Homo sapiens: one gene and its partners. The protein of the gene in region 1 purifies or fractionates together with the protein of each later gene. This does not show direct contact. Each region holds a gene or a part of one and is shown in the gene's direction. Other genes may lie near its edges. The genes, in order: PPTC7, TRMT2B, DBT and HSDL1.

Region 1 (7,885 bases):
TTTTTTGAGACAGGGTCTCACTTGTGCTGCCTAAGCTGAAGTGCAGTGGCACGATCACAGTTCACTGCAGTCTTGACCTCCCATGCTCAAGCAATCCTCCCACCTCAGCCTCTCAAGTAGCTGGGACTGTAGATGTGCACCAGTATACTCAGCCAAATTTTTTTTTTAGATGGAATCTCGCTTTGTCGCCAGGCTGGAGTGCCGTGGCGCAATCTTGGCTCACTGCAACCTCTGATTCCCTGGTTCAAGTGATTCTCCTGCCTCAGCCTCCCTAGTAGCTGGGATTACAGGCACGGGCCACCATGCTTAGCTAATTTTTTCTGTATTTTTTAGTAGAGACGGGTTTTCACCATGTTGGCCAGGATGGTCTCGATCTCCTGATCTCGTGATCTGCCCGCCTCAGCCTCCCAAAGTGCTGGGATTACAGGAATTTTTTGATTTTTTATTGAGAAGAGGTCTCACTATGTTGCCCAGGCTGGTCTTGAACTCCTGGACTCGAGCAATCCTCCTGCCCCGGCCTCCCAAAGTGCTGGGATTACAGGCATGAGCCACCATGCCCGGCCATATTCACCTTTTTAAAGTGTATAGTTCAGCGATTATTCATATATTTATAAACTTGTGCAACCATTGCCACTATCTACTTCCAGAATATTTTCACCACTCCAAATAGAAACCCTGTACCCATGAGCAGTCACTCCCCATTTGTCCCTTCCCCAAGTCCCTGGCAACCACTAATCTACTTTCTGTCTCTATGGATTTGCCTATTCTGGACATTTCATATAAATGGAATCATACAGTATGTGGTATTTTGTGTCTGACTCCTTAAAATACTGCTTTTGTTTGTTTTAGAAATGGGGTCTCACTACATTGTCCAGGGTGGAGTGCAGTAGCAATTCACAGGCTCCATCCTGACACTCTATAACCTTAGCCTCCCAGGTAACTGGGACTACAGGCACTTGCCAGCTTGCCCAGCTCTTAGCCTCACCATTTTTTTTTTTGAGACAGGGTCTCACTCTGTCACCTAGACTGGAGTGCAGTGGCATGATCTTGGCTCACCGCAACCTCCGCCTCCCAGGCTCAAGTGATTCTCTTGCCTCAGCCTCCCGAGTAGCTGGGATTACAGGTGCACGCCACTACCGCCCGGCTAATTTTTGTATTTTTAGTAGAGATGGGGTTTCACCATGTTGGCCAGGCTGGTCTGGAACCCCTGACCTCAAGTGATCCACCCGCCTTGGCCTCCCTAAGTGCTTGGATTACAGGCGTGAGCCACTGCACCTGGCCCAGCCCCACCATTTATTATTATTCGTTTTTCAGATCCTAAGGTTGCATTGCTCTTCTCCAATCACATTCTGCATTCATTGAATATCCTTTTCCTCCTCTTGAGCTGGTTATGCCGCATGACAGACAGAGAGACTTGTCTGTCCGTTCAGGCCTCTCACAAATGTCATGTCTTTGTGAAGTGCCCCAGGTGTTCTCTAACCCCAGAGGGTCTCATTTCCCCTTCCCAGACCCCTCCTTTATTTCAGCTTGTGGTGCTTATTATTATTTTATTTATTTACTTTGAGCCAGAGCCTTGCTCTGTTGCCCCAGCTGGAGTGCAGTGGCGTGATCTTGGCCTATTGCAACCTCTACTTCCCGGGTTCAAGTGATTCTCCTGCCTTAGCCTCCCAACTAGCTGGGATCACAGGCGTGCACCACCATTCCCAGCTAATTTTTGTATTTTTAGTAGACCCAGGGTTTCGCCATGTTGGCCAGGCTGGTCTCGAACTTCTGACCTCAAGTGATCCACCCCCCACTCGGCCTCCCAAAGTGCTGGGATTACAGGCATTAGCCACCGCACCCAGTCTGTTATTATTATTTTAATACATTTACTTAATTTTAACCTTCCTACTGCACTGTGACTGCCACAAAATCACTGATTTTTTTTATCCTTAGCCTAGAGACTTGAACATAATAAGTGCTCAACAAATATTTGCTCATTTGCATGGCATTGCCGTAATACAGTGGCTCTAAATCAGGGAGCAATTTTGCCCCCCAGGGGACATTTGGCAATATCTGGAGACAGTTTTGGTTGTCCTGGGGGCACAGAGGTGGCATGCTTCTGGCTTCTAGTGGGTAGAGGCCAGGGATGCTGCTAAGCCCCCTCCAACGCATGCACAGGACAGCCCTAACAGCAAAGAATCATCCTGCCCAAAATGTCAATAGTGTCAAGCTTGAGACACCTTGCTGTAAGCTAATTAGTGCTCATTGTGAATAGGTTAGCAAAAAGGAACCCAAAGAGATCAACCTACCAGTCTGGCAGAAAATCTCACTAGGAAATGTCATGCCTTCTTTTTGTTGTTGTTGTTTGTTTGGTTTTTTTAGGAGCGGAGGCTGACTTTAGTGCAAAGCTCTTTCCTAATGTCATAGAGGTGCCCTGGGAGCCCAGATGGTATTTTCACCACACTTGTTCACCTTTAAGAGTGGCAACTGACCTCTCAGGAATCCCTGAAGTGCTAGGAATGTAACTCTGTTAAGGAAGAAAATCCAGGCCTTTTTAAGTCCAACAAAATGTCAAACGTGAATTGTGTTCCTGGGAGAAGGAACGGGAAGGGAGGTGTTTTGTAAAGTACCCTCTCCTGGCTTCCCCCATGGTGATGAAACTTCAGAGCTGGCTCTGGAATAAATGATTCAAGAGAACCCGAGGCCCTATCTCCTGTTCCTTTAAAACTTGCAAAGGAGCTTTGAGAAGGATTCTGTTCGCCACGTGCTTCTGTGGGCAACTCATTTGCAGGAAACTCACTTGCAGGAAATTCATTTGCCGGAAACTCAAGGCACTGGTATCACTTAATCATGAAAACAGCAGCCCCATCGGAGCAGAAGTTACTGGCTTTAGAGTCACATTTTAGGTTCCTACTCATCCCATCAAACCAGTTCTTGTGACTGACATGGAAATTAGGTAATATATGCCCTGAAAAGGAAAAGTAGGAGCAGTCTGAAGGAGTTTGACGAGGCAAGAAATAGGGTTGACATGCTATTTTAAAAAGTTTGTCCTTGGGGTAGAATTACCTGCCAGACTGACTGGGATCTGGTAGTGGTATGTGTACTTGAAAGAGCTACCTTTAGCACAGCTGGCAGCAATATAAATGCCAAGTAGAGGATTCCGAGAGGCACTACCCCCTCTTCTGGGCACTCTCCAATTCTTGTGCCATTAAAAAAAAGGAAGGTGTGAATGCATTATTGTCATTACTATACCATTTATCCAGTAAATGAACATTTTCTGGGTTCTGTATATTTGACAAAATGCCACTACGTGAAGTCATTTCTTCCGTCCAATTTTGATGAAAGCTCTTAAAGACAGAAACATATATATAGACAGTACTTGGCACACTGTGAACTGCAAAAGTGTTTAATGATGACAGTAATTAGGATAACGGAATAATATGTGTTGAGTTGATAGTTGGCAGCATTTTAAATATATTAAGAAAGCATAAAAAAGGACCATTTAAAAACGAGGTGGGAATCCCCAAAGTAACAATGGTCTTGTTAAAAGTGAACTAGAAAAAGACTGCTGTTTCTGAGAAATATATGTTTCAATCAAACTAAAAATTACTCTAAATTGAATTACTTGCCCCAAAGCTCATTTTCTGTTGTTTGTGAACCCCATTCACTCAATCATTCCTGTATTCAACAAACATGACTTTCTTTTATCATTTGTGTTCTTATTCCATTACTCCTTCCTTTTTTTTTTTTTGAGATGGAGTCCAGCTCTGTCTCCCAGGCTGGAATGCAGTGGCGCTGTCTCGGCTCACTGCAACCTCTGCCTCCCAGGTTCAAGCGATTCTCCTGTCTCAGCCTCCTGAGTAGCTGGCATTACAATCGTTTGTCACCAAGCCCAGCTAATTTTTTTTTGTATTTTCAGTAGAGACCATGTTGGCCAGGCTGGTGTTGAACTCCTGACCTCAAGTGATCTGCCCACCTCGGCCTTCCAAAGTGCTGGGATTACAGGTGTGAGCCACCACGCCCAGCCCATTATTCCTTCTTTTATTCCACAGACATTTACACACTCTCCTACTGTGTGCCAGGCATTGCTTTAGATTCTAATAATTGAGCAGCAAATGATCCTTGTCCTTGGGAAACTTAGAATCTAGTGAAATATTCATTCATTCTTTCATTCATTCACATATTTACTGGGTGCTCACGTGTTCTGGGGATACAGCAACAGAAAACACAGGACCCTCAGGTAAACGAATTACATTCCAAAGGGTAGAAGCGAAAGCAAGGGCAAAGGTCTTGAGACAGCTGTGAGCATGGCTAGAGGCCAGTTAGCAAAAGGGACATGACACCATCTGTGTCCCCTCCCACTCTGATAGGGACACATAACATTTTCTCAATTTTTCCTAAAAGACTACAAAAAGTCTCTTCTTTCCAAACAGTTTGCCGCCCTAAATCCTTCCAGTATATTACTTGGGGAGGTGTCACTAGATCTGTGTACCTCTGTTTCTCATTATGTGACTCCATTCTGGTTTCTTGCAGGTTTTTGTTTAAAGGAATGGTGGCGTTATTTATTTAAAACAGGCTTTAAAAGATACGGTTAAAACAGGGTAGAAAACCCTCACGTGGCCCACCTGCAATTCCTACTAACTTAACATAGGTCCCGCGTCTGAGGAATCCCCCTAGGTCCTAAATCTTTGGCAGCCAAGTCAAAAGTGACTACGACTCCGGGACTATAATTCCCAAGAGACACTGCGTCCGCACCCTCTGCGCATGTTCAACCTTGGTGACTGCATAAGGCAGCGAGCCCAAGGGGCTGGGCTTGGGCCTGAGCGGTGAATCGGGGCGGGGCTAGGGGCAGGGCCAGGGAGGGGGCGGTGCTGCCGGCACCGCCCGGAACACGCTAGTGGAGCGGAAGATGGCGGCGGCGGCGGCGGCCGCTGCAGCCGGGACTTCAGTTGGGCTGAGGCGGAGGAGCCGCCGCTTCTGACCTCGCTCTGGCTCCGGTGCGCGCGGCTGAGCGCGTGCGAGGCCCCGCGCGTCGGGCAGGGGCGGCGGCGGCCACTGCGCGCCGCCCTGAGGAGCGCCCCAGCGGCGGCGCGACTGCGGCTGAGGAGAGAGCCGGCTCCGGGCCTCCGCGTCCTCCTGCTCCCCCGGCCCCCCGCCTCCTCGGGGGGGCGGCGGCGGCGATGTTCTCGGTCCTCTCGTACGGGCGGCTGGTGGCCCGCGCCGTGCTCGGCGGCCTCTCGCAGACCGACCCCAGGGCCGGCGGCGGCGGCGGCGGCGACTACGGACTGGTGACGGCCGGCTGCGGCTTCGGGAAGGACTTCCGTAAGGGCCTCCTCAAGAAGGGCGCGTGCTACGGGGACGACGCGTGCTTCGTGGCCCGGCACCGTTCCGCGGACGTGCTCGGTGAGTCCCCGACCCGGTTCCCTTGCCCCAGCCTCGGATCCGCCTCCCGGGGACTCCCCGCGCGGGGCTTCCCCAGTTCCTCCCGGCGGCGAAAGGAGCCAGAGCGCTCACATGGAGGGAGCGCTTACTATGCGCCAGGCGCCGTGCCAAGCGCTCCGAGGCGCGTTTTCCGCTTGAACGACCCCCATTTTAGAGAGGAGGAAACTAAGGCGCACAGCGGTCAAGTCGTGTGCTCAAGGTCACAACCCGAGAGTGTGACCGGTCTGTCCGAGTCCAGAGCCACACTCTCGGTCTCACTCGGCCGTGCCAGCCCTGGGCGACCTCGTCCCCTCCCTGGGCGACACCTGCAGGCTCCTAACCTCGTTCTGGTTCCCTCTCCGCATGCCCCGGGGATCCCTGCCTCTTCGCGTGCTCCCGACACCACAGCCCGGCCCAGGCTGCGGGATCGCCGGCCGACAGGCAGTCGTGAGCCCCCAGACAGCCCGGCCGTATTCTTTCGCCGCCTGGATGGTAACCAAATCTTCACCCTTTTCGGAGTGTGGCGGTGGGGGCTGCTGGCTTGGCGAAAAAACCCTCACAGCGTTTTCTCCCAAATTGATCTTGTCCACTTGCGGTCACTTGGGGGTTGGCAGAGTCTCCTTGATCCAAAATAGAATGGTCGAGCCTACTTGTAGATTGCAGCCGGTAAAGCTCTGAGGATTGGTCACAGCCTTTTCAGGCCACAGGTGCTCCCTGAGGCCTATTCCAGTTATACCTTTTGGGGGTGGGAGACTACGGAGAGAGCTGGCAGAAAGGGCTAAATATAGTTCACAAGCAGTCAGAAACTTTACCATAATGTACGCCTTAGGAGATTTTGTGTATGCTATGGGATATTGTGCCGTTAAAACTCTTTGAATGAATAAAGCAATGCGCTCGCTTTGAAATTGAAGGACGTGTTGTCATTGAACTTGGGTTCAAATGTCACTTTGATTTCCCTTCCCAGGTGAGACTAAGTTTTTGGTTACTTTAAATTTCATATGCTGAGGCAGAGTTTGGCATTGGAACAAATGATTCTGTAACTTTTTTATGACAGTAATTATTTTTTAATCTGATCTCAGAATAATTGCCTAGTATCTTTGGTTCTACTACATGTAGTGTTTGTGAACATGGGACTGGAAAGGTTGTTCTCAGTTTAATTTATGAATGACCCCATTACCTGGGTTGAAGAAAAAGCATTTAATGTTTAGGCAACGCTATTGATATTAACATGAGAGGGAGACTTAGAAAGGTCCTGCAGCTTGCAGATTGAAATTGTACAAATCCACCCCGAAGTCAGCTGTCAGTGGCTGTCTTCCCTGATACATTTAGAAGTGCCTCACTCAATGAGCTTGTGACCTGTGCTGCGTTTTTTTTTTTCAGACGGAGTCTACCTCTGTCACTCAGGCTGGAGTGCAGTGGCGCAATCTTGGCTCACTGCAGCCTCCGCCTCCCCGGTTCAAGCGATTCTCCTGCTTCAGCCTCCCGAGTAGCTGGGATTATAGGCGCCCATCACCATGTCCAGCTAATTTTTGTATTTTTAGTAGAGATGGGGTTTCACTGTGTTGGCCAGGCCGGTCTCGAACTCCTGACCTCGTGATCGGCCTCGTGTTCGCCTCGGCCGCCCAAGGTGCTGGGATTACAAGTGTGAGCCTGGCCCCTGTGTTGCTTCTTAAAGTTGTGTTCATAACATAGGATAGGGGATAATGAGCCTCTAAGGTTCACCTCATAAATCTGTATGCTGGGCTGCGCGTGGTGGCTCACTCCTATAATCCCAGCACTTTGGGAGGCTGAGGCGGGTGGATCATGAGGTCAAGAGTTCAAGACCAGACTGACCAATATGGTGAAACCCAGTCTTTACTAAAAATACAAAAATTAGCCGGGCGTGATGGCGCATGCCTATAGTCCCAGCTACTCAACAGGCTGAGGCAGGAGAATCTCTTGAACCAGGGAGGTGGAGGCTTCAGTGAGCCAAGATCGTGCCACTGCACTCCAGACTGGGCGACAGTGCGAGACTCCGTCTCAAAAAAAAAATAAAATAAAAAATCTGTATGCGACTTTTGTGAAAGATCCGTGACTTGATTGATGATTTGGGGAGTATTTAAATGTATCAAATTCTATATGGAAGCTTGATTTTAAAATTTTGGAAGGCTAGACCGGGCGTGGTGGCTCACGCCTGTAATCCCAGCACTTTGGGAGGCGGAGGTGGGCGGATCACCTGAGGTTAGGAGTTCGAGACCAGCCTGGCCAACATGGCAAAACCCCGTCTCTACTAAAAAATACAAAAATTAGGCAGGTGTGGTGGCACACGCCTGTAGTCCCAGCTACTAGCGAGGCTGAGGCAGGAGAATTGCTTGAACCTGGGAGATGGAGGTTGCGGTGAGCCGAGATCACACCACTGCACTCCAGCCTGGGTAACAGAGCAAGACTCCGTCTCAAAAAAAATACAATAAAATTTTGGAAGGCTACCTTCTTAATGGAGTGG
Region 2 (7,173 bases), on another chromosome or scaffold:
TGCTTGAACCCAGGAGGCGGAGGTTGCAGTGAGCTGAATTCACACCATTGCACTCCAGCCTGGGCAACAAGAGTGAAACTCCATCTCAAAAAAAAAAAAAAAAAAAAAAAAAAAGGAAAAGAAAAGAAAAAAAGAAGAAAAAAAAGCAATTCTCCTGTTTCAGCTCCTGAATAGCGGGGATTACAGGCATGCACCACCACGCCCAGCTACTTTTTGTATTTTTAGTAGAGACGGGGTTTCACCATGTTGGCCAGGCTGGTCTTGAACTCCTGACCTCAGGTGATACTGCCCGCCTCAGCCTCCCAAAGTGCTGGGATTACAGGCATGAGCCTCCTTACCCGGCCTTAGGTGGTTTTTGATCAAGGAGAACTTTAGAATTGTGGTGCTTGTCCAAGATGGCGATGCTCCTGCTTGGTAAATTTTAATATGTTATTTCTGAGAGCGAATGCTGTAGCCTCTCAGCTATCTTTTCCTTGCACCAAAATGAGAATGTTTGACAAATTCCTAGGGATTTCACTTTGTTGTGATTTGGTTTGCTAATAACAAAATTAAGTAAAAGGTTATCTTGGTTCCAGCTCTTATTTGAGTTAACAATATTCCTTATCATCTATGACATATCCACTTACTGACTTTCTGGTTGAAGGGTCTAACCTTTCCTATAATACGGGGTATTTCTTTCCCCTCTTACAAATGTAATGATTTCGCTTTTATAGTAGAATATGCTTTACCAGATTAAATAAATATAAAGGGGTTAATGGCTAAATAATTACATTATAGCTGCTTTAATCTCTTTTCTCTCTCTACCCCTCAGGGTTTTCCTCCTTGAATGACAGGCCTGCTTTAAATGAATTTGCCTGGATGCTCAAAATAGGTGGGGGTGAGGGAGGAAATGCCTTCTCTCTTTCAGCAGACAAGATGGAATTCAGTTTAATTAATCAAATATTAATATTTATTGAGCTCGTATGGGACACCTGATTCTGTGCTAGGCACAACACAGAAGGCCAAAACGAGAAGTGATAAAGGAGCAGAAGGGCTTGGGAAGGGGAAGAAAGGGGAAGAGGAGGTGATAAAAGGTGTAGAGCTGTCTAGCCATATAAGAGGGGATTAAAAGATGAGAAAGGGAAAATAGAGCCAAAGGTAAATTCTCTGGCCTGGTCTCACTTGATAGCCCTGCATGGGCCTAGAAGGCTGAAGCAGTGGTTTGAGTTCAAATTTTGCTTATGAGCCATGAGAGCAGTTAGGATAGTGGCAATTTGAGTCAAACATTTACCTCCTCAAGGGTTTAGGATGGAAGTGAAATCTCTCTTTAAAAAACAAGAAACATACACGTGTGTGTTTGTGTGTGTGTGTGTGTGTGTGTGTGTGTGTGTGTGTGTTGTGGGGGCCAAAGTCATTGGCCCCTGAAGGTTCACTAAAATATCACTGATATGAGGCTGATTCATAGGAGAAAAGGCATACAAATTTATTTAACATGTACACATGGGAGCCTTCATCATGGAGACCCAACCTCCCAATAATTAACAGAAGCTTATATATCATCTTGAAATTACAGAAAGAGACCAGGCGTGGCTCATGCCTGTAATCCCAGCACTTTGGGAGGCCGAGGCGGGCAGATCACGAGGTCAAGAGATCGAGACCATCCTGGCCAACATGTTGAAACCCCGTCTCTACTAAAAATACAAAAATTAGCTGGGCGTGGTGGTGCAAGCCTGTAGTCCAGCTACTAGGGAGGCTGAGGCAGGAGAATCGCTCGAACCCGGGAGGCAGAGGTTGCAGTGAGCCGAGATCGCGCCACTGCACTCCAGCCTGGGTGACAGAGCGAGACTCCATCTCAAAAAAAAAAAAAGCCGGGCGTGGTGGCTCACGGCTGTAATCCCAGGACTTTTGGAAGCCGAGGCGGGTGGATCACGAGGTTGGGAGATCAAGACCATCCTGGCTAACACGGTGAAACGCCGTCACTACTAAAAATACAAAAAATTAGCCAGGCGTGGTGGCGGGCGCCTGTAGTCCCAGCTACTTGGGAGGCTGAGGCAGGAGAATGGCATGAACCCGGGAGGCGGAGCTTGCAACAGTGAGCCGAGATCGCGCCACTGCACTCCAGCCTGGGTGACAGAGCGAGACTCCACCTCAAAAAAAAAAAGTAAGAAATTACAGAAAGAATGTGGACGAACTCAGAGTATATACAAAAACAGGTTTTAGTGGCAAGATAGGTTATGGAAGAAAGGAAGAGACTTGGTTTGTGAAGGTGGCCTTGTCATGTAGAGGAAGCCTCCTTCCGAAAGAATAGCTGGTAAATGCTTCTTTTCAAACTTTTAAAGATGTCAGACTCTCAATCTCTCCTGGATCCAGGTAAGGCATAGAAATGGGAAGCTTGGCTGTATTCAAGGAGGTTCTCTACAGATGCAAATTTCCCCCATCTCAGTCCTCTGGTCCTGAGGCAGCCATTTCAAACATATGGCAAATACATTTATTTTGGGGTAAAATATTTTTATTTTCTTCAGAATGTATGAACACACAGTATATCAACTTATTTTGAATGATAATAGCTAACTTTGTGTACTTACTGTATTCTAAGCACTTTGTGTGTATTAACTCATTTAATCGTTGTCACAACCGTATGAGGTAGGTAAAATTATTGTGGACATTTTTTTTCAGATGATGAAACTGAAGCACTGAGTAATTAAATAACTTGCTCAGTGGACACAGCTTATCAGTGGCAGATCTGCTGGGGGTGGTGGCTTATGCCTGTAATCCCAGCACTTTGGGAGGCCGAGGCAGGCGGATCACCTGAGGTCAGGAGATCGAGACCAGCCTGACCGACGTGGTGAAACTCCATCTCTACTAAAAATACAAAAATTAGCTGGGCGTGATGGTGCACTCCTGTAATCCCAGCTACTCGGGAGGCTGAGGCAGGAGAATCGCTTGAACCTGGGAGGCGGAGGTTGCGGTGAGCCGAGATCACACCATTGCACTCTAGCCTGGGCAACAAGAGCAAAACTCTGTCTCAAAAAACAGAAAAATAGAAAATAAGTGGCAGATCTGGGCTTTGAATCCTATTCTGACTGACTCAATGTTTGCTGCTATTTGAAGTATTGGGCCTTGTTTAATTTACTACTGTACTCACTAAGGCTAACACATTGCCTTGCACATAATAGGCATGTTATGCTTTGAATAAATATTAATACATGAAATGTTGACTACAAAGTGTTTTCCACTTGAGCACAATTACTATTAAGCATAAAAATTAAATATCATTAAATGTACGTTCACTATTTTTTTTTTTTGAAACGGAGTTTCACTCTTTTTGCCCAGGCTGGAATGCAATGGCATGATCTCAGCTCACTGCAACCTCCACCACCTGGGTTCGAGTGACTCTCCTGCCTCAGCCTCCTGAGCAGCTGGGATTACAGGCGTGCGCCACCACGCCTAGCTAATTTTTGTATTTTTAGTAGAGATGGGGTTTCACCATGTTGGTCAGGCTGGTCTCGAACCCCTGACCTCAGGTGATCCTTCCGCCTCGGCCTCCCAAACTGCTGGGATTACAGGCGTGAGCCACTGCACCCACCTCGGTAGGTTCACTTTGCTGTAAATTTTACTCTATTAAAGCAACAATATTTTACAGCACACAGATGTGTGTATACTTCAAGTTTTCTTACTCGTGGCTGGGCTAATGACTCCTCTAAAAATTAGAGGTATTACTGAATGTAGTCCAGGAGGTAGTGAATCAACCAAAAAGAGACATCTGTCCTCTTTTTGAGTTCTGTAGTTGAAGAAAAAGATTATTTCTGAGGGTTTAGGATTTAATAGTCTTGAGTGGGATCCAGTGAAGAAACTATAAAGTATTTTTCTGATGCAGTGTTAAAAGAGAATGAATGCTTGAGAAACCCCACGGCCCAGAATAGATCTGGCTTTTACCAAAGGATGCCATTTCACGGAACCACCCTGTTTCTCATCTCCCAATCTTCCAACCCGTTAGGGATCTGATGTCTGCAATTCTATCATGAGAAAACTATTCCTTGAGTTGGAAGACTTAAACTGCAAGCACCCCTGGGATGGCTAACGCAGTTAACACTGCAGTGTGAACGTCTTCGTGAGTCTCTTATGTAGATCCACCAATGGGACGGTGAGGAAAGAGCAGGTGGTGGGCGGGGCCCCGGGGAGGGGAGGAGAGGAGAACTTAGAGAAGGAAGGCGGCGGGTGTCAGGGCTATGAGTGCTTTTAAGGAAGGTCTCCATAGAAGGTTCCCCCAGCAAAGTAGGGAGGGGTACTCCCCGAGAGGAGTCGAGGTGCCGGAGCCTGCTGCCTCGCCGACGCTGGGAGGAGCCCCGTGTCCCGCCGCGCTTGCCAAGGGTTGGCTGCGCGTGCGGCGGGAGTAGAGGCGCCTTGCGCACCAGGAAGTGACTGTTTCCCCGCCGCAGCAAACCAGGCCATCCGCTGGCCTTTTAGTTTGCCGCCTCAGGTTTGTAAGAGGATTTATTGGTTACGAAGGAAGGTAAGGTGGATAAATAGCCCGGAAAACCTGATTTAACCCTTGCTTTACAGAAAACTCCCTACTATGCCAAACTGTCCGCGGGGCGGGGAATGGAGGAGGCAGGCGGGGCTGGAGACGGGACCCGACGGTGACTGCGCAAGGTCGTGTACGGCCCAGCGTGGGCCTGTGCCCTAACTCCTCCCACTCCCTTACTTTCTGTCCTTCCCGGGCCCTGCAGACCGGCCAAGTTTAGTGGTAGCCTTTCCTAGTGTCTCCTCTTTGTTAACCCTTCCTACAGACACAGTGGGCAGAACTTGCCTAAAGAAGAAGGGAATGGAAGGGCTAGTGGAGTCTTGTTGGGGAGACAAGGACCTGACTGCCTGTGGGCTGCATTCGGGACACGACACAGCAGTCAACCCATTTGCTTGTTTGGTTTAGCAAGGAATAGTGTCTGGAGCCGGTCCAGCTGAAGGAAGGGTGAGCAGAGAGTGCAAGCAGGACCCTTGTCGGTGGGTGAACATTTTGCTCCAAAAGGGATCCTTGGCCCTGCGCAGGTGAGACCTACCACATAGTCTCTTTGATTTGAACCTCTCTGAGCACAGGAGAGTTAGCCTGCCTTCCTATTTGGGCTACTCTGGACTCCAGGACTCTTCCTGATCAATTCCTGAGGCAGGTATAGAACAGTCGAGCACGACTGCTCACACGCTTTTTTTTTTTTTTGCTGAGGAAAAAACTCCCAAGCATTTTTATTTTTTATTTGTTTGAGACGGAGTCTAGCTTTGTCACCCAGGCTGGAGTGCAGTGGTGCGATCTCGGCTCACTGCAACCTCCGCCTCCCGGGTTCAAGTGATTCTCCTGCCTCAGCCTCTGGAGTAGCTAGGATTACAGGCGCCTGCCACCACGCCCAGCTAATTTTTGTATTTTTAGTAGAGACTGGGTTTCACTCTGTTGGTCAGGCTGCTCTCGAACTCCTGACCTTGTGATCCGGCTGCCTCGGCCTCCCAAAGTGCTGGGATTACAAGCGAGAGCCACCGAGCCTGGCCCCCAAGCATTTATTTTTTATTTTTTATTTTTATTTTTGAGACAGAGTTTCACTCTTGTTGCCCAGGCTGGAGTGCAATGGTGTGATCTCGCCTCACCGCAACCTCTGCCTCCCAGGTTCAAGCGATTCTCCTGCCTCAGCCTCCCGAGTAGCTGGGATTACAGGCGTGCGCCACCACACCCGGCTAATTTTGTACTTTTAGTATAGACAGGGTTTCTCCATGTTGGTCAGGTTGGTCTCAAACTCCTGAGCTCAGGTGACCTGTCAGCCTCGGCCTCCCAAAGTGCTGGGATTGCAGGCGTGAGCCACCGCACCTGGCCCCAAGCACTTATTTAAAACAGGACAAAATATAAAAAGAAAATAGTCTCTTCTGTGAACAAATGTCTCCCCTGACATTAAGAAAGAAACAGAACTCACCTTGACTAGTATGAGTGTGCTGCCTTGAAAAAGAAATTTCACCACAGAAGTTACTAAATATGACAGGCTCTTTACCTAGAATGATGGCTGGTTGGCACCTTGAAATAATAAGGTCCTGTTTTAAACCATACTTGATAATTTGGAAGAGACCTAGATGGACAAGGACCCTCCTGCTGGGGTATAGGGCAAATGAACTACAGTCATGGCAGAGTCACCAGTGAGAGGACCCACACACTCACAAAAAAGTCTAAATGTCGTTGGGGTGGGAATAGCTATCTTCAAATTCCCCAGCTTCCTTGTCCCTCCTCTGCAAATCCTCAAATGGGCCTGCAGTTTCCTTCCTCCTGACTTTCCTGCTGACTGGAGGGACAGGACCCCTCTCCTGGATCAGCTCTACTCCCTTCCCCTGTAGTCTGGGCTTCAAGGCCACTGGCCTTCTCAGACCCACCATGTCATTCTTTATGTCTCTTGCCTCTTCATTCATTTCCTTTCTCTGGCTTTTGCCATCCTCCATATCGAATACGTACATTCTCACAGGCCACACACTTTTTTTTTTTTTTTTGAGAAGGAGTCTCTTGCCCAGGCTGGAGTGCAGTGGTATGATCTCGGTTCACTTTAACCTCTGCCCGGGTTCAAGCAATTCTCCTGCCTCAGCCTGCTGAGTAGCTGGGATTATAGGCGTGCGCCACCACACCCAGCTAATTTTGTATATTTTTGGTAGACAGGGTTTCACCGTGTTGGCCAGGCTGGTCTCGAACTCCTAACCTCAAGTGATCCACCCTCCTTGGCCTCCCAAAGTGCTGAGATTACAGGCCTGAGCCACCCCGCCTGGCTTTTTTTTTTTTTTTTTTTTTTTTTGGAGACAGGGTCTCCCTCCCGGGCTGGAATGCAATGGCACAATCATAGCTCACTGCAGCCTTCAACTGCTGGACTTGTGATCCTTCTGTCTCAGCCTCCTAAGTAGCTAGGACTACAGGTGTGTGCCACCACACCTGGCTAATTTTTAAAACTTTTTGTAGAGACCGGATCTCGCTATGTTGCCCAGACTGGTCTCAAACTCTTGGCCTTAAGCAATCCTCCTGCCTTGGTCTCCCAAAGTGCTGGGAGTTACAGTTGTAAGCCACTGCACCCGGCTGCCACACACTTTTGAGAGTATTAACAGGTAGTCCAGCACAGGCCATAACCTCACTACACTCCAGCAGGCACTCATGTAGAGGGTCAGAAAATTTATGTGTCTATGTGT
Region 3 (7,020 bases), on another chromosome or scaffold:
CTGAGATCATGCCACTGCACTGCAGCCTAGGTGACAAAGAAAGACCCTGTCTCAAAAACAAACAAGAAAAACTTCCAAGTCATAAAAATTAAGGAACTCGTAGCAGTTCTTTTAATTATATTTTTCTTCAGTTGATCTACTCTCTTAACCTGTCCTAACTAATGAAAATGAAATGTCTCTATATATTTAAACTTTTTTCTTAACTCTCTAGTTCAAGAATTTGATTTTTTTCCCATCAAGACCCCGATGCACTGAGAAGAATAACACAATGCATGTAAAGAACTTTAACAGGGACCAGACAAGGGCAGTGGGGGAGGGAATTCTTTTTAAGAATGATCTTAAGCATTTTTATTTTGCTATCTTTTAAATTCAATACAATGCATGGCCACCACATGTAAGGTATGAAACTTGATTATTAGATCCCAAAAACAGATTATCAAGAACATTTTGGGTACAGTTAGGGAAATCTGAATATGGACAGGAGAGAAATGGTATTAAGTGACAAAAGGGAGAAGGCAGCAGAGAGGGAAAATATAAATGCTATTCAGTGAGACTTGAGCTGTAAAGTAAATGTTCAGGACATCTCTGCCCTTCAGCTGGCCAAGGACACCAAGTAGCAAACTGGCATCTACTGGTCAGTGCGCTTTGAAATCCTCGTTACGTGTTCTTTCCACACAGAGAAATAGCTTACCTGCTTTTTTTGTGTTTTGATTCCTAGTATTACTTCTCATGGAAATCTTAAGATCAACATGTCAGTGAGGAAATCACCTAGAATTTAGACATTTTCTTTGGAACTTTGGCTGGTCTGTATCATTATTTTGAAAATCTCCTTGATGTTTACAAGCTACCTGACTACTTTATCTTTTATTCTTTAATGATTAGGGTGACCTAGTTCCACATGGCCTGAAGGTAACATTGGCAGTAATGTGACTAGGTACATGTAGACTTGAAATTAAACTCAGCATAAATAAGAGTTCTCTCTCTCCCTCCTTTTATACCTCTTATTGTTTCAAATTCTCTATCCTTTCTAAGTTAAAAGTACTAAAATTGCATTCTTTTTCTGTTAAACAGGCTGCTTCCTTGGGATTACTACAGTTTCCTATCCTTAACGCTTCTGTGGATGAAAACTGCCAGAATATAACATATAAGGTTGGCTATGCAGAGTAAAAATGTTCTTATTATTAATAGAAGATGGGGCAAATGTGCTTGTAGATTAGAGACTTCTATTGTACCTCAAATAGTGATCTTTTTTAGACTAGAATTAAAGGTATGGGGTAAAACATTAAACTTAAGTCTAATTCATTGTTGTTGTTTTTGTGTTAATAATACTGTTTAGAGATTCTTAAAACTATTTTTAAGCTTTTTTTTTTCCTGCTTAAAATAATGGAAATACATAGCTGTATGGCAGATTATGTTACCCACTCTACTTACCCTCTCAAAAAGAAGCAGCTCTTTCAAAATTGAATTCCTGGAATTTTAATATTATTATTCTTATTCTTCTTCTTCTTCTTCTTCTTATTATTATTATTATTATTGGCAGAGTCTCACTCTGTCACCAGTTTGGAATGCAGTGTTGTGATTGTGGCTCACTGCAGCCTCAACCTCTCAGGCCCAAGCAATCCTTCTGCCCCAGCCTCCTGTGTAGCTGGGACTATAGGCATGCGCCACTATGCCCAACTAATTTTTAAATTTTTTGTAGAGACGTGGTCTCATTATGTTGCCCAGGCTGGTCTTGAACTTCTGGTCTAAGCAATCCTCCTGCCTCAGCCTCCCAAAGTGCTGGGATTACAGGCATGAACCACTGTGCCTGGCAAATTCCTGGAATTTTAATATTAAGAATAATTTAAGTGAGAAAAATAATAAAAGTTTGAATTCAATTTGAGTAAACTCTTCTGTGAGTAGTGAAAGTTTCTTAAGACCGAAAACTCTTTTTGAGATGCCTTTCCTGAAGTTTACTTATCATTAGAAGTGCACAACCAGAGGCTGGGCACGGTGGCTCACGCCTATAATCCCAGCACTTTGGGAGGCTGAGGCGGGTGGATCATGTGAGGTCAGGAGTTTGAGACCAGCCTGGCCAACATGGTGAAACCCTGTCTCTACTAAAAATACAAAAATTAGCCAGCCGTGGTGGCCAGCGCCTATAGTCCCAACTACTCAGGAGGCTGAGGTGGGAGAATTGCTTGAACCCAGGAGGCGGAGGTTGCAGTGAGCCAAGATTGTGCCACTGCACTCCAGCGTGGGCGACAAGAGCAAAACTCCATTTCAAAAAGAGAATTAAAAAAAGAAAAAAAAGAAAAGACATGTACAACCAGAAAGTGAGCTTAGATATTCTGGGAGGTCAGCTCCCATACGGTTAATACAGTCAGCTGTATTAATTTTAATTTTAATATCTCCTGATTAAGTATATACTTATTAAAAAAATTTCAGGCAAGAAAATGATGTTGGCCGGGTGTGGTGGCTCCTGCCTGTAATCCCAGCACTTTGGGGGACAGAGGTAGGAGGATGGCTTGAGCCTAGGAATTCAAGACCAGCATGGGCAACAAAGTTAGGAGGCCCCATCTCTACAGAAAAAAAAAATTAGCCAGGCATGGTGGTGCATGCCTATAGTTTTAGCTGCTTGGGAGGCTGAGGCAGGAGAATCATATGATACCTGGGAGATGGAGGTTGCAGTGAGTTGTGATCATGCCACTGCACTCCAGCCTAGGTGACAAAGTGAAACCCTGCCTTTGTCAAAAAAAAAAAAAGAAAAGAAAAGAAAAGAAAAAAGAAAACAAAGATGTTTACCCTCAATTCCATGACCCTAAGATAGCTCACTGTTTATGTTGAGATATACATCTTTCTAGGATTTCATTTTTACATACTTTTTACAAGATATAGAATTATTTATATTTTCTTTAACTTGCTTTTTTCTTTTTCTTTTTTTTTTTTTTTTGATACAGAGTCTTGCTCTGTTGCCTATCTAAAGTATTCCCCATAGAGAATATCTATGCTGTGGTGTAATCATCGCCTCACTGCAGTGTCCACCTCCCACCGCAGCCTTCTGAGTAGCTGGGACTATAGGCACGTGCCACCATGCCCAGCTAATTTTTGTACTTTTTTTTTTTTTTTGTAGAAATGGGGTCTTGCCATGTTGCCCAGGCTGGTCTCTAACTCCTGGGCTCAAGTGATCCACCCACCTCAGCCTCCCAAAGTGCTGGGTTACAGGCATGAGCCACTGTGCCCAGCCTCTTCATTTTCATTTACTATATTGTAGACATCATTGTCAACAAGTATAGCTTTGTTATTTATTTAGCCAGTGACCTATTTATAAACATCATGATTATTTGCAGTTTCTCAAACTTATAAACAGTGTGTACTCAACATCCCTGTGTATCCCTACATACTTCTGCACTTAGTTCCTTAACACGAATTTTTATAAATGTTGGTTCATGTTGTCATATGTTCTCCAGAAAGTCTCTACAGTTTAAGTATCCGTTACCTGAAATGCTTGGGACCAGAAGCGTTTTTGGATTTAAGATTTTTTTGGATTATGGAATATTTGCATATACAAAGGAGATATCTTGAGGACAGGACTCAAGTGCAAACATGAAATTCACTTATGTTTCATTTACCCCTCATACACATAGCCTAAAGGTAATTTTATACAATATTTTTAACATTTTTGTGCATGAAACAAAGTTGGATTTGTTTTTTTTTGTTTTTGTTTTGGAGACAGAGTCTTGCTCTGTGGCCCAGGCTGGAGTGCAGTGCTGCGATCTCGGCTCACTGCAAACTCTGCCTCCTGGGTTCATGCCATTCTCCTGCTTCAGCCTCCTGAGTAGGTGGTACTGCAGGAGGCTGCCACTACGCCTGGCTAATTTCTTTTTGTATTTTTCGTACAGATGGGGTTTCACTGTGTTAGCCAGGATGGTCTCCATCTCCTGACCTCGTGATCCGCCCGCCTCGGCCTCCCAAAGTGCCGGGATTACAGGCGTGAGCCACTGTGCCCGGCCACAAAGTTTTTTTTTTTTCTTTTTTTGACACAGAGTTTTGCTCTGTCACCCATGCATAATCATAGCTTATTGTAACCTAAAACTCTTGAGGTCAAATGATCCTCCCACCTCAGCCTCCCAAGTAGCTGAGACTATAGGCATGTGCCATAATTTAAAAAAAAATTTTTGTAGCTAATTAAAAAAAATTTTTTTGTAGAGATGGAGTCTTGCTATGTTGCCCAGGCTGGTCTCAAACTCCTGGCCTCAAGCAATCCTTCTGTGTCAGTCTCCCAAAGTGTTGGGATTATAGGCATGAGCCACTATGCCCTGCCAGAACAATGGCTGCATTTTTCTCTTTTTTTTTTATTGATGGGCTCTGATATGATTAAATATTATAAAATGAGAACTGTTTCAACAACTATGCAGCATAATGTTTAAGGACAAAATATTGAATATACTTTTTATTATATATGTATTTTATCACATAGTAAGGAATGCTGAGGTGCTTAATCCATCCAATAAATTGAAAATAAAATCTTTACATTTCTATATTTGTCAGTATACAGAATTCTGAAGATGGATCTTGACTCAGGGTGATAAATCAGTTTTCAAGGAAATTGGCTACATCACATGACGTCATTTCAGCCCCCAGAAGTTTCAGATGTTGGAGCATTTCAGATTTCAGATATTTGGACTAGGGATGCTCAACCTGTACCAGTTACATTCCCACTAACGATGTTGGGAAATAGCCTATTGCCTACATTCTTATCAATAAAAAATTATCATCTTTTTTTGGACAGAGTCTCACTCTGTCTCCCAGGCTGGAGTGCAGTGGCACAATCTCGGCCCACTGCAACCTCCACCTCCCAGGTTCAAGCGATTCTCGTGCCTCAGCCTCCCGAGTAGCTGGGATCACAGGCCTGTGCCACCATGCTAATTTTTGTATTTTTAGTAAAGATGGGGTTTCACTATGTTGGCCAGGCTGGTCTTGAACTCATGACCTCAGGTAATCCAGCCACCTTGGCCTCCCAGAGTGCTGGGATTACAGGCATGAGCCACTGCGCCTAGCCCAAAAAATCTTTTAAAAATTATTTTTAAATTATTTCTTTTAAATCACTACCAATCTGGTAAAAATGAGTTTTGGTAGTGGTTTCTAGATGGCAGTGAAGGTTGATCCTTTCTTTGCTGTTAGCTTATTCATTAAAAGCCCTACTGTACAATTTTTTATTTTTTAGGCTTCTCATAACATTGGGATAGCAATGGATACTGAGCAGGGTTTGATTGTCCCTAATGTGAAAAATGTTCAGATCTGCTCTATATTTGACATCGCCACTGAACTGAACCGCCTCCAGAAATTGGGCTCTGTGAGTCAGCTCAGCACCACTGATCTTACAGGAGGAACATTTACTCTTTCCAACATTGGATCAGTGAGTAATAATGTTGAAATACATAAACCATTACTTAAGGTTTCTGATCATATGCTTAATTAAAAATAGAAAAGTCACTTGGCATTTGTTCCCTGAAAAATCTTAACTTTTAATACTCTCCTTTTTTTTTTTTTAAAAAATAGATTGGTGGTACCTTTGCCAAACCAGTGATAATGCCACCTGAAGTAGCCATTGGGGCCCTTGGATCAATTAAGGTACATGTATTAGATAACTGAAAAATGGAGTTTAAGCAAATTCAGGGACTAAACACAATGAAGAGTAACCATTTCTAAGGTTTCCCCTCCTTTTGTAGGTTTTAAGTTTCTGAGTTTATCTTAGAAAGTCTATTATTTCTTTTTTTTTTTTTTTTTTAACTTTAAGTTCTGGGATACATGTGCAGAATGTGCAGGTTTGTTACATGAGTATACACCTGCCATGGTGGTTTGCTGCACCCATCAACCCGTCATCTACATTAGGTATTTCTTCTAGTGATATTCCTCCCCTAGCCCCAGACCCCACGACAGGTCCCCAGTGTATGGTGTTCCCCACCCTCTGTCCATGTGTTCTCATTTTTCAACTCCCACTTATGAGTGAGAACATGCAGTGTTTGGTTTTCTGGTTTCCAGCTTCATCCATGACCCTGCAAAGGACATGAACTCACTCTTTTTTATGGCTGCATAGTATTCCATGGTGTATATGTGCCACATTTTCTTTATCCAGTCTAACTAACATTGATGGACATTTGGGTTGGTTCCAAGTCTTTGCTATTGTGAATAGTGCTGCAATAAACATACATGTGCATGTGTCTTTATAGTAGCATGATTTATAATCCTTTGGGTATATACTCAGTAATGGGATTGCTGGGTCAAATGGTATTTCTGGTTCTAGATCCTTGAGGAATCGCCACACTGTCTTCCACAATGGTTGAACTCATTTACACTCCCACCAACAGTGTAAAAGCGTTTCTATCTCTCTATATTCTCTCCAGCATCTGTTATTTCCTGCCTTTTTAATGATTGCCATTGTAACTGGCATGGTATCTCATTGTAGTTTTGATTTGCATTTCTCTAATGACCAGTGATCATGGGCTTTTTTTCATATGTTTGTTGGCCATATAAATGTCTTCTTTTGAAAAGTGTCTGTTCATATCCTTCGCCCACTTTATGATGGGTTGTTTGTTTTTTTCTTGTAAATTTGTTTAAGTTCCATGTAGATTCTGGATATTAGCCCTTTGTCAGATAGATAGATTGCAAAAATGTTCTCCCATTCTGTAGGTTGCCTGTTCTCTCTGATGATAGTTTCTTTTGCTGTGCAGAAGCTCTTTAGTTTCATTACATCTGATTTGTCAATTTTGGCTTTGTTGCAATTGCTTTTGGTGATTTAGTCATGAAGTCTTTGCCTATGCCTATGTCCTAAATGGTATTGCCTAGGTTTTCTTCTAGGGTTTTTATGGTTTTAGGTCTTACATTTCAGTCTTTAATCCATCTTGAGTTAATTTTTGTATAAGGTGTAAGGAAGGGGTCCAGTTTCAGTTTTCTGCATATGGCTAGCCAGTTGTCCCAACACCATTTATTAAATAGGGAATCCTTTCCGCATTGCTTGTTTTTGTCAGGTTTGTCAAA
Region 4 (7,583 bases), on another chromosome or scaffold:
TTTTCAGCATTCTTAAAAATTGCAATGTATGTTTTTTTTTTTTTTTTTTTGAGATGGAGTCTCACTCTGCCGCCCGGGCTGGAGTGCAGTGGTATGATCTCGGCTCACTGCAACCTTCGCCTCCCGGGTTCAAGCGATCCTCCTGCCTCAGCCTCCCAAGTAGCTGGGATTACAGGTGCCCGCCACTACGCCCAGCTAATTTTTTGTATTTTTAGTAGAGATGGGGTTTCACCATATTGTGCAGGCTGGTCTCGAACTCCTGACCTTGTGATTCGCCCACCTCAGCCTCCCAAAGTGCTGGGATTACAGGCATGAGCCACTGCGCCCGGCCTAAAAATTGCATTGTATGTTCTAATAAAAATACTTTAAATGGTGTCATGAGGAACTACTGCTGTTCCTCTCTGCAGTCTGGCATTAAAGTTTAATAGAATGTGCGCTCAGCTGTGCGGCAGAGGCAGTGCCATCCTCACTCCATTCTCAGACATTGGGCAGGCAATTCAATCTCTACCAGCCTCTATTTCATTATCCGTACAAGGGGGTGATTACGCCATCTACCTTACTCCATAAATGTGCACTAATTAGGAGTATGCCCACATACCTGGGGCCCCGATCTTCCCTGTCTTCTCTTGGGTGTGCGAAGTGACCACCTGACCCATTATCACCACTCTGTTTCTGCTGGCTGTGGTAGGATGTGTCAGAAGAACCCACACATATTTCCTTAGGATCATTAATTTCTGTAAAATAAAAGAGATCAGGTCTGTAGAGATCAAGATATATGCCAAAAAATACCCCCAACTTCAGCTTGGTTAATGACCATCCACTTTTAGTATAGAACACCAGTATTCTTTAGTGGCTGGGTATGGTGGCTCAGGCCTGTAATCCCAGCTCTTTGGGAGGCTGAGGCAGGTAGATTGCTCGAGCCCAGGTGTTTGAGACCAGCCTGAGCAACATGACAAAACCCCATCTCTACAAAAATTAGCCAGATGTAGTGGTGCGTGCCTGTATTCCCAGCTACTTGTGGGGCTGAGGCAGGTTGATCACTCGAGCTTGGGAAGTCAAGGCTGCAGTGAGCTGTGTTCACACCACTGTACTCCAGCCTGGCAACAAAGTGAGACCCCGTCTCACCAAAAAAAAAAAAAAAAAAGAGAGAGAGAGAGAACAGTAATCTTTAAATGTGTAACAATTTTTAAAGCATTGGCAAAGACTATGTAAATTTCACTTCTAGGTAGATCCTCTATAAAAACTCTTGTACAGGTGCACAAGAAAACATGGACAAAGAGATTTGTTTCTGCGTTTTTTTTTATAAAAGCCAAAAACTGTTAACAACGTAAATGTCCATCCATAGGGGCTGGTTACATAAAACAATGACTTGCTTTTCTACCTTTGAGAAGAATGCACTAGAACTACATCTATCCATAGGGATAATTCTCAGAAACGTATATGGAGTGAAAAAAGCAAGTTTCAAAATAAGCACAGGATACCATATATAAATTAAAAATATGCAAAGCAATACTATACACTGTTTCAGGGCATACATGTATAGAGAAGTGCTTGCAAGAATTCATATAAAATTCTGGACAAGGGAGGAAAGGAATGGGATTAGAAACGGGGTGGGGTACAGGGGAGAAAAGGAACACCAACTCTATGTGAAATGTTTTATTTCTTTTTTTTTTTGGAGACCGTCTTGGTCTATCCCCCAGGTTGGAGTGCAGTGGCGGGATCTCAGCTCACTGCAACCTCCGCCTCCCGGGTTCAAGCGATTCTCATGCCTCAGCCTCCCAAGTAGCTAGGATTACCAGCGCCTGTCACCATGCCTAGCTAATTTTTTTGTATTTTTAGTAGAGACGGGGTTTCCCCATGTTGGCCAGGCTGTCCTCAAACTCCTGACCTCAGGTGACCCACCCGCCTTGGCCTTCCAAAGTGCTGGGATTACAGGCGTGAGCCACCGTGCCCACCCTTATTTATTTTTATTTTTTTTTTGGGGGGGGCTTATTTCTTTAATTAAAAAAGACTTCAAATAAATATGATAAAATGTTACTCATTTTCAATTCTTGCTGGCAAAACACGGGTATTTGTTTTAATGTTCTTTGTTCTTTTGTCTTTTAAAAAATTTCTGAAGCCAGGTGTAGTGGAGCATGCCTGTAGTCCCAGCTACTCAGGAGGCTGAGGCAGGAAGATCTAGCCTGGGTAACATAGTGAGATTCCATCTCTTAAAAAAAAAATCATAAAAAGGAAAATCACATGAAAAGAAACAAAAATAGTGAGAATATCTATGATAACAATAACATGAGCACATTCAAATGAATAATTTTTTTAAAGGTCATTCAAAATTGGCCAATTCAACCGCACTTAACTTTAAGAGCTGTTGTCTGCTGCTTTCTGTGTTTGTGTGGTCTATTGAACAAGACTAAAGGCTGTGCGTGTGGGGACTGGTTCTTAAACTCATCAATTTTGCATAGAATGCCCAGCCACAGGAAGCAACAGATAAATGTTTGTGGAAAAAATAAAGAATAAGCGCTCAATATATAAATATTAATATGTAATTAATAACAAGAGCTACCATTTAATAATGGCCCACTATATGCTGGGACATTTAATTATAATTCTCTCCTTATACTCCTGTATAATTATTCCAGCTTACAGATGAGGAGACTAAGGCTCCGAGAGGTTAAGCTCTGGGCCAACAGCCATAAAGCTGGCCAGCTGCTGAGCCTCAACTTGAACCCAGTGTCAATGGCTCCAAGACCAGTGTCTTTCCACTGAGTAATGCCAGTTCCCTATGGCTCCTCATACAAGGTTCATCTGGACAGTTGATGCTTAAGATATATTTGTTGCCTGGAACACAAATCAGCTGGTTTATTTGTTGCCTGCGTTCAGAAACTGGAACACAAATCAAGTGGTTTTTTAATGTAATCACTAAAAGGTTTCCTTTAGGGCACCAAGTCTAGTGGGAGCAGAAGCTGAAGCCAGGCTTCCTTCTTTCCTTTTTTTTTTTTGAGACGGAGTCTTGCTCCATTGCCCAGGCTGGGGTGCAGTGGTGTGATCTTGGCTCACTGCAGCCTCAGCCTCCCCCTTGGCTCACTGCAACCTCTGCCTCCGGGGTTCAGGGAATTCTCCTGCCTTAGCCTCCCAAGTAAGTGGAATTACAGGAGCACGTCACCACGCCCTGCTAATTTTTGTGTTTTTAGCAAAGACAGGGTTTCAATATGTTGGCCAGACTGGTCTCGAACTCCTGACTTCAGGTGACCCACCTGCCTCTGCCTCCCAAATTGCTGGGATTACAGGCGTGAGCCACCGTGCCTGGCCATGAAGGTTATCTTTCAAGTCCATTCTGGCAAACTTTGGTGAGGGGATCACACACTGACCCCAGAACCAAGTCTTCATTCGGACTCTCTACCCTAGGTCAGGCACTGGACTAGACTCCAAATTCAATCAAGATGTCTTGCCCTGACACAACATGCAGTCTGGAGGGAGAGAAAGCCTTTGATCTTACATAGTGATAGCAATAAAGGGACACATTTAAAGCATCAAAGTTGGGACCAGGGAGAATAGCGTGGTGGGTTAGGGCTGGGGCTCTGGAGACCCAGACTGTCTGGGCCTGAGTCTGGTGGGTTTTGTTTGCTTGTTTGTTTGTTTGTTTGTTTGAGACGGAGTCTCCCACTGTCGTCCGGGCTGGAATGCAATGGCGAGATCTTGGCTCACTGCAACCTCCGCCTCCCGGGTTCAAGCGATTCTCCTGCCTCAGCCTCCCAAGTAGCTGAGACTACAGGCGCCCGCCACCACGCCCAGCTCATTTTTTGTATTTTTAGTAGAGACAGGGTTTCACTATGTTGGCCAGGCTGGTCTCGAACTCCTGACTGACCTGATGATCCGCCCGCCTCGGCCTCCCAAAGTGCTGGAATTACAGGCGTTGAGCCACCGCACCCGGCCAAGTCTCTTCTGTCACTGACTAGCCGAGGGTTATCTGTTTGGTGCAAGTTTTGTAACCTCTTAAGTATGTTTCCTCCTCAGTACGAAATGGCGAGAGAAGCCCCTACTGCAGAGCGTTGCTTGCTACCATTATTATTATTGTTATTATTTGGCTGTGAAGATCGGGTATGTGGTGTGGGAAGGGGGCTGGAGCGCCTAGCCGTGTCTGCCCCTCGCCCACCGCCCTCCCTGGGGGGCAGTCGGCACCTTCCTTGCAGCCCCCTCGGCCTGCGCTCCCGTGGTCACCCGCAGACTCCTCCACGCCGGGCTCCTGCGCGCAATCCAGCTCTGCTGCACCACCTGTCGCAGGCTCCGAGGGCTCAGGGTGCATGTTTACTTCGGCGACACCGAACGCCCCGCAGCTTTGGGGGGCCCAGGTTCGCGGCGGACGTCGCTACGGCCCCAGCCCAGCCAGAGAGTACCCTCTTTCCTTCTTCGCCAGCCGCTGGCGCCCTAGTCTTTACAGCCCAACGCTTCCCCGGTCGCCCAGGCAACCGCTGCGCACGCGCACTCGGGACGGACCGGCGCGCTGGGGACGCCGGGGGGTGGGGGCGGGTCTGAGACGGCTCCGCCCCCGGCGCGTACGCGGGTCACGTGAGGGCGCGGCGCGGCAGCAGCTCCGGCGGCCGAGACGGGGGCGGCGGCCGCGCGGGTCTGGCGGGACCGGTTTGGAAGACTTTGCCGGCCTGCAGGTACCGCGCCCCCCGCGCCCTGGGCGCCCTCTCGCGGTCCTTTCGCCCCAGACCCCTCCTCGGTCCCCTCAGCGCCAGCCGGCTGCTTGGCGAGACCCCTCTGAGCTCTCACCACGCCCCCCAGGCCCCGGGCCCCCTCCGCTGCATCCGGCCCCGAAGCCCCTTGGCGCCCCTGACCCCAGGAAATCTTCGTCCCTCCGTCCCGTGAGACTCCTTCCTTCAGACCAAAAAGCCCCAGCCCCGCCCCTTCACATCTCAGAGCCCCCCTTCCCCCGGCTCCATCCTCACGCCCCCCGCCGCGGCGCTGCACCCCTGTTCTCTCTCTTCCCCCGGGCCTTGCCCCCCAAACCGCGAACCCCGTTGTCGCCGGCGCATGCCCTGCCCTCCCTGCAGCCTCTCACCCGGCTCCTCCCCCGAGCGGCCCCAGCAATCGCCTCCTTTGTCGGTGCTTCTTTATTCTCATTTCTGAACGATTTGGTTTGAGTTGTTGTTGCCGTGTTTTTCTAAAATGGAAATATGCAGCGGTCGTGGGTTCAGCCAGGATTTCCGAGTTTGCTCGTGTTGACTGGGCCTTGCCGGGTGCTGGAGGGGAAGGGCTGGGAAGAAGAACCAGGCAGGTCCCCGTTCTGAACGTGCCACCCAGACGCAGCCCCAGAAACCGGATCGCTGCAGCGCCCCTCGGCGATCCCAACATGATGTGTACAGGTGACTGCGAGGCAGTCGGGGGGTCTCACAGTGGGCTCCCTGGACAGGACTCTGCGCCTTGCTATACCTCCATCTGAATTGCAGGTAGCCCCTTTCTGAGTTGTGGGGTCTTGGGTGTGCGACTTTACATCTATAAGACTCAATTTCCCCATCTATAAACGGGAGAGTCTGACTGCGCTTTATAAGATTAATGAGAGAATAAAGTGAGACAATAGGAATAAAGCACTTAGCAGAGTCTTTTGCATAAAGTGAGCTCTCAATTTTACTCTGACCGCCACAGGAGAGAGAGAGAGAGAGAGAGGGAGGGAGGGAGAGGGAGAGGGAGGGGGAGGGGGAGGGTGTTGATTGATTGATTGATTCAGACAATCTCGCTCTGTCGCCCGGGCTGTAGTGCAATGGTGCCTGCGATCTCAGCTCCTGCTACCTCTGCCCGCCATCCCGCACCCCGGGCCCAAGTGATTCTCCTGCCTCAGCCTTCCGAGTAGCTGGGATTACAGGCACGTTCTACCACACCCAGCTAATTTTTTTTTTTTTTTTTTTAGTAGAGACGGGGTTTCGCTGTGTTGGTCAGGGTAGCCTTGAACTCCTGGCCTCAAGTGATCTGCCCGCCTTGGCCTCCCAAAGTTCTGGGGTTACAGACATGAGCCACTGTACCCGGCCAAGTTTGTGGTTTTAATCACTGCTGGAATATTCTAGGGCAACAGAGTTGAACATATTGGTGCTACTTTTTTTTAAAGTAGGTTTTCAAAAATCGAAATGACTTACGCATGACATAAAATTTATCATTTTAGCCATTTTACAGTGTATAACTCAGTAGTTCTTGCTATAGTCACAATGCTATGCAACCATCACCAGTAACTAATTCCAGAACATTTAATCACCTACAAAAGAAACCCCAACCCCATTAACAGTCATACCTCTTTTCTCCCCCTGTCCCTCAGCAGCCCTAAGTTATCTTCTGTCTCTATGGATTTGCTTATGCTGGACATTTCATACAAGTGGAAACATACAACATACGGCCTTTTGTATTTGGTTTCTGTCCTTTAGCATAATGTTTTCAAAGTTTATCCATGTTGTAGTATGTATCAGTACTTCATGCTTTTTTATGGCTGAATAATACTCCTTTGTGTGGATAACACCACATTTTGCTTATTCATTCATTTGTTGATGGACATTTTGTTTGTTTCTGCCTTCTGGCAGTTGTGAGTAGGCCACTGTGAACATGCAAGCAGGAGTTTTTATGTGAGCAAAAGTTTCTAATTATCTTGGGTATCTGCCTAGGAGTGGGGTACTCTGAATATTTTAATTCTTACTGCATAAATACAGACATGATGGTGAAGAGTGTTGGATCTTGGATGAGAATCCAGGTTTCTAATTCCATGTTGCTGCTCTTTAGGCTCAGCTTCATTGTGCGTTTAGTCCTATACCAAAAATTGGCAGTGAAGGTAAAGACATCCCAAAAAGTCTTGATACACCAATGCTAACTTTGTCATAGTGCTGACGCAGAGTATGAAAAGCTTAAGTTTTTTTCTCAAGAGTGAAATTTGAGCTTTGAACACAAAGCAGTATTTGATTCTGTTTATTAAATAAAGTTGTCTACAGCAGCATGTCAGGTGCTGAGGAGGAATATTAAAGATGTGTGAGATCCGGCCGGTCACATCCCAGTGCTTTGGGAGGCCAAAGTGGGCGGATCACAAGGTCAGGAGTTCAAGACCAGCCTGGCCAATATGGTGAAACCCCCGTCTCTACTAAAAAAGAAAAAAATACAAAAATTAGCCAGGCATGGTGGCACACGCCTGTAGTCCCAGTTACTTGGGAGGCTGAGGCAGAAGAATTGCTTGAACTTGGAAGGAGGAGGTTGCAGTGAGCTAAGATCGCGCCATTGCACTCCAGCCTGGGTGACAGAGTGAGACTCTGTCTCAAAAAAAAAAAAAAAAAAAAAAAGATGTGTGAGATCCCAGCCTCACACCATCACAAAACGCCAGGAGGATTAAAGACTTAAACTGAAAAAGCAAAAATGTAAAATTTCTAGAAAATAATTCGAAAAAATTTCTTCATGACCTGAGGCTAAGGAGGGATTTCTGAAATAAAACAAACCCTAAAGCAGAAAGATTGATATATTTGTCTCTTTCAAAATTAAGACATTCAGCCAGGTGCAGTGGCTCCCACCTGTAATCCCAGCACTTTGGGAGGCCAAGGCAGGTGAATGGTTTGAGC

What was found.
Region 2: the proteins of PPTC7 (region 1) and TRMT2B purify together in Homo sapiens (affinity purification with mass spectrometry; 3 studies listed by BioGRID and IntAct, with this or other methods). This does not show direct contact.
Region 3: the proteins of PPTC7 (region 1) and DBT purify together in Homo sapiens (affinity purification with mass spectrometry; 2 studies listed by BioGRID and IntAct, with this or other methods). This does not show direct contact.
Region 4: the proteins of PPTC7 (region 1) and HSDL1 purify together in Homo sapiens (affinity purification with mass spectrometry; 2 studies listed by BioGRID and IntAct, with this or other methods). This does not show direct contact.

Annotation. Positions count from the first base shown.
Region 1 is NC_000012.12:110,580,309-110,588,193, reverse strand, and holds the start of PPTC7 (protein phosphatase PTC7 homolog), read left to right. Parts: upstream 1-4,875; 5' UTR 4,876-5,162; coding exon 5,163-5,385; intron 5,386-7,885. UniProt on the Homo sapiens protein: Protein phosphatase that plays an essential role in mitochondrial metabolism and biogenesis. Positively regulates biosynthesis of the ubiquinone, coenzyme Q. Dephosphorylates the ubiquinone biosynthesis protein COQ7 which is likely to lead to its activation.
Region 2 is NC_000023.11:101,049,103-101,056,275, reverse strand, and holds the start of TRMT2B (tRNA (uracil-5-)-methyltransferase homolog B), read left to right. Parts: upstream 1-4,164; 5' UTR 4,165-4,459; exon of another isoform or gene 4,460-4,492; intron 4,493-4,539; exon of another isoform or gene 4,540-4,542; 5' UTR 4,543-5,025; intron 5,026-7,173. UniProt on the Homo sapiens protein: Mitochondrial S-adenosyl-L-methionine-dependent methyltransferase that catalyzes the formation of 5-methyl-uridine in tRNAs and 12S rRNA. Catalyzes the methylation of uridine at position 54 (m5U54) in all tRNAs.
Region 3 is NC_000001.11:100,204,823-100,211,842, reverse strand, and holds part of DBT (lipoamide acyltransferase component of branched-chain alpha-keto acid dehydrogenase complex, mitochondrial isoform 1 precursor), read left to right. Parts: intron 1-718; exon of another isoform or gene 719-803; intron 804-1,071; coding exon 1,072-1,149; exon of another isoform or gene 1,150-1,150; intron 1,151-5,206; coding exon 5,207-5,398; intron 5,399-5,541; coding exon 5,542-5,613; intron 5,614-7,020. UniProt on the Homo sapiens protein: The branched-chain alpha-keto dehydrogenase complex catalyzes the overall conversion of alpha-keto acids to acyl-CoA and CO(2).
Region 4 is NC_000016.10:84,142,158-84,149,740, reverse strand, and holds the start of HSDL1 (inactive hydroxysteroid dehydrogenase-like protein 1), read left to right. Parts: upstream 1-4,563; 5' UTR 4,564-4,661; intron 4,662-7,583. Other genes in the region: DNAAF1 (dynein axonemal assembly factor 1), read right to left, coding at 599-734, 4,177-4,300.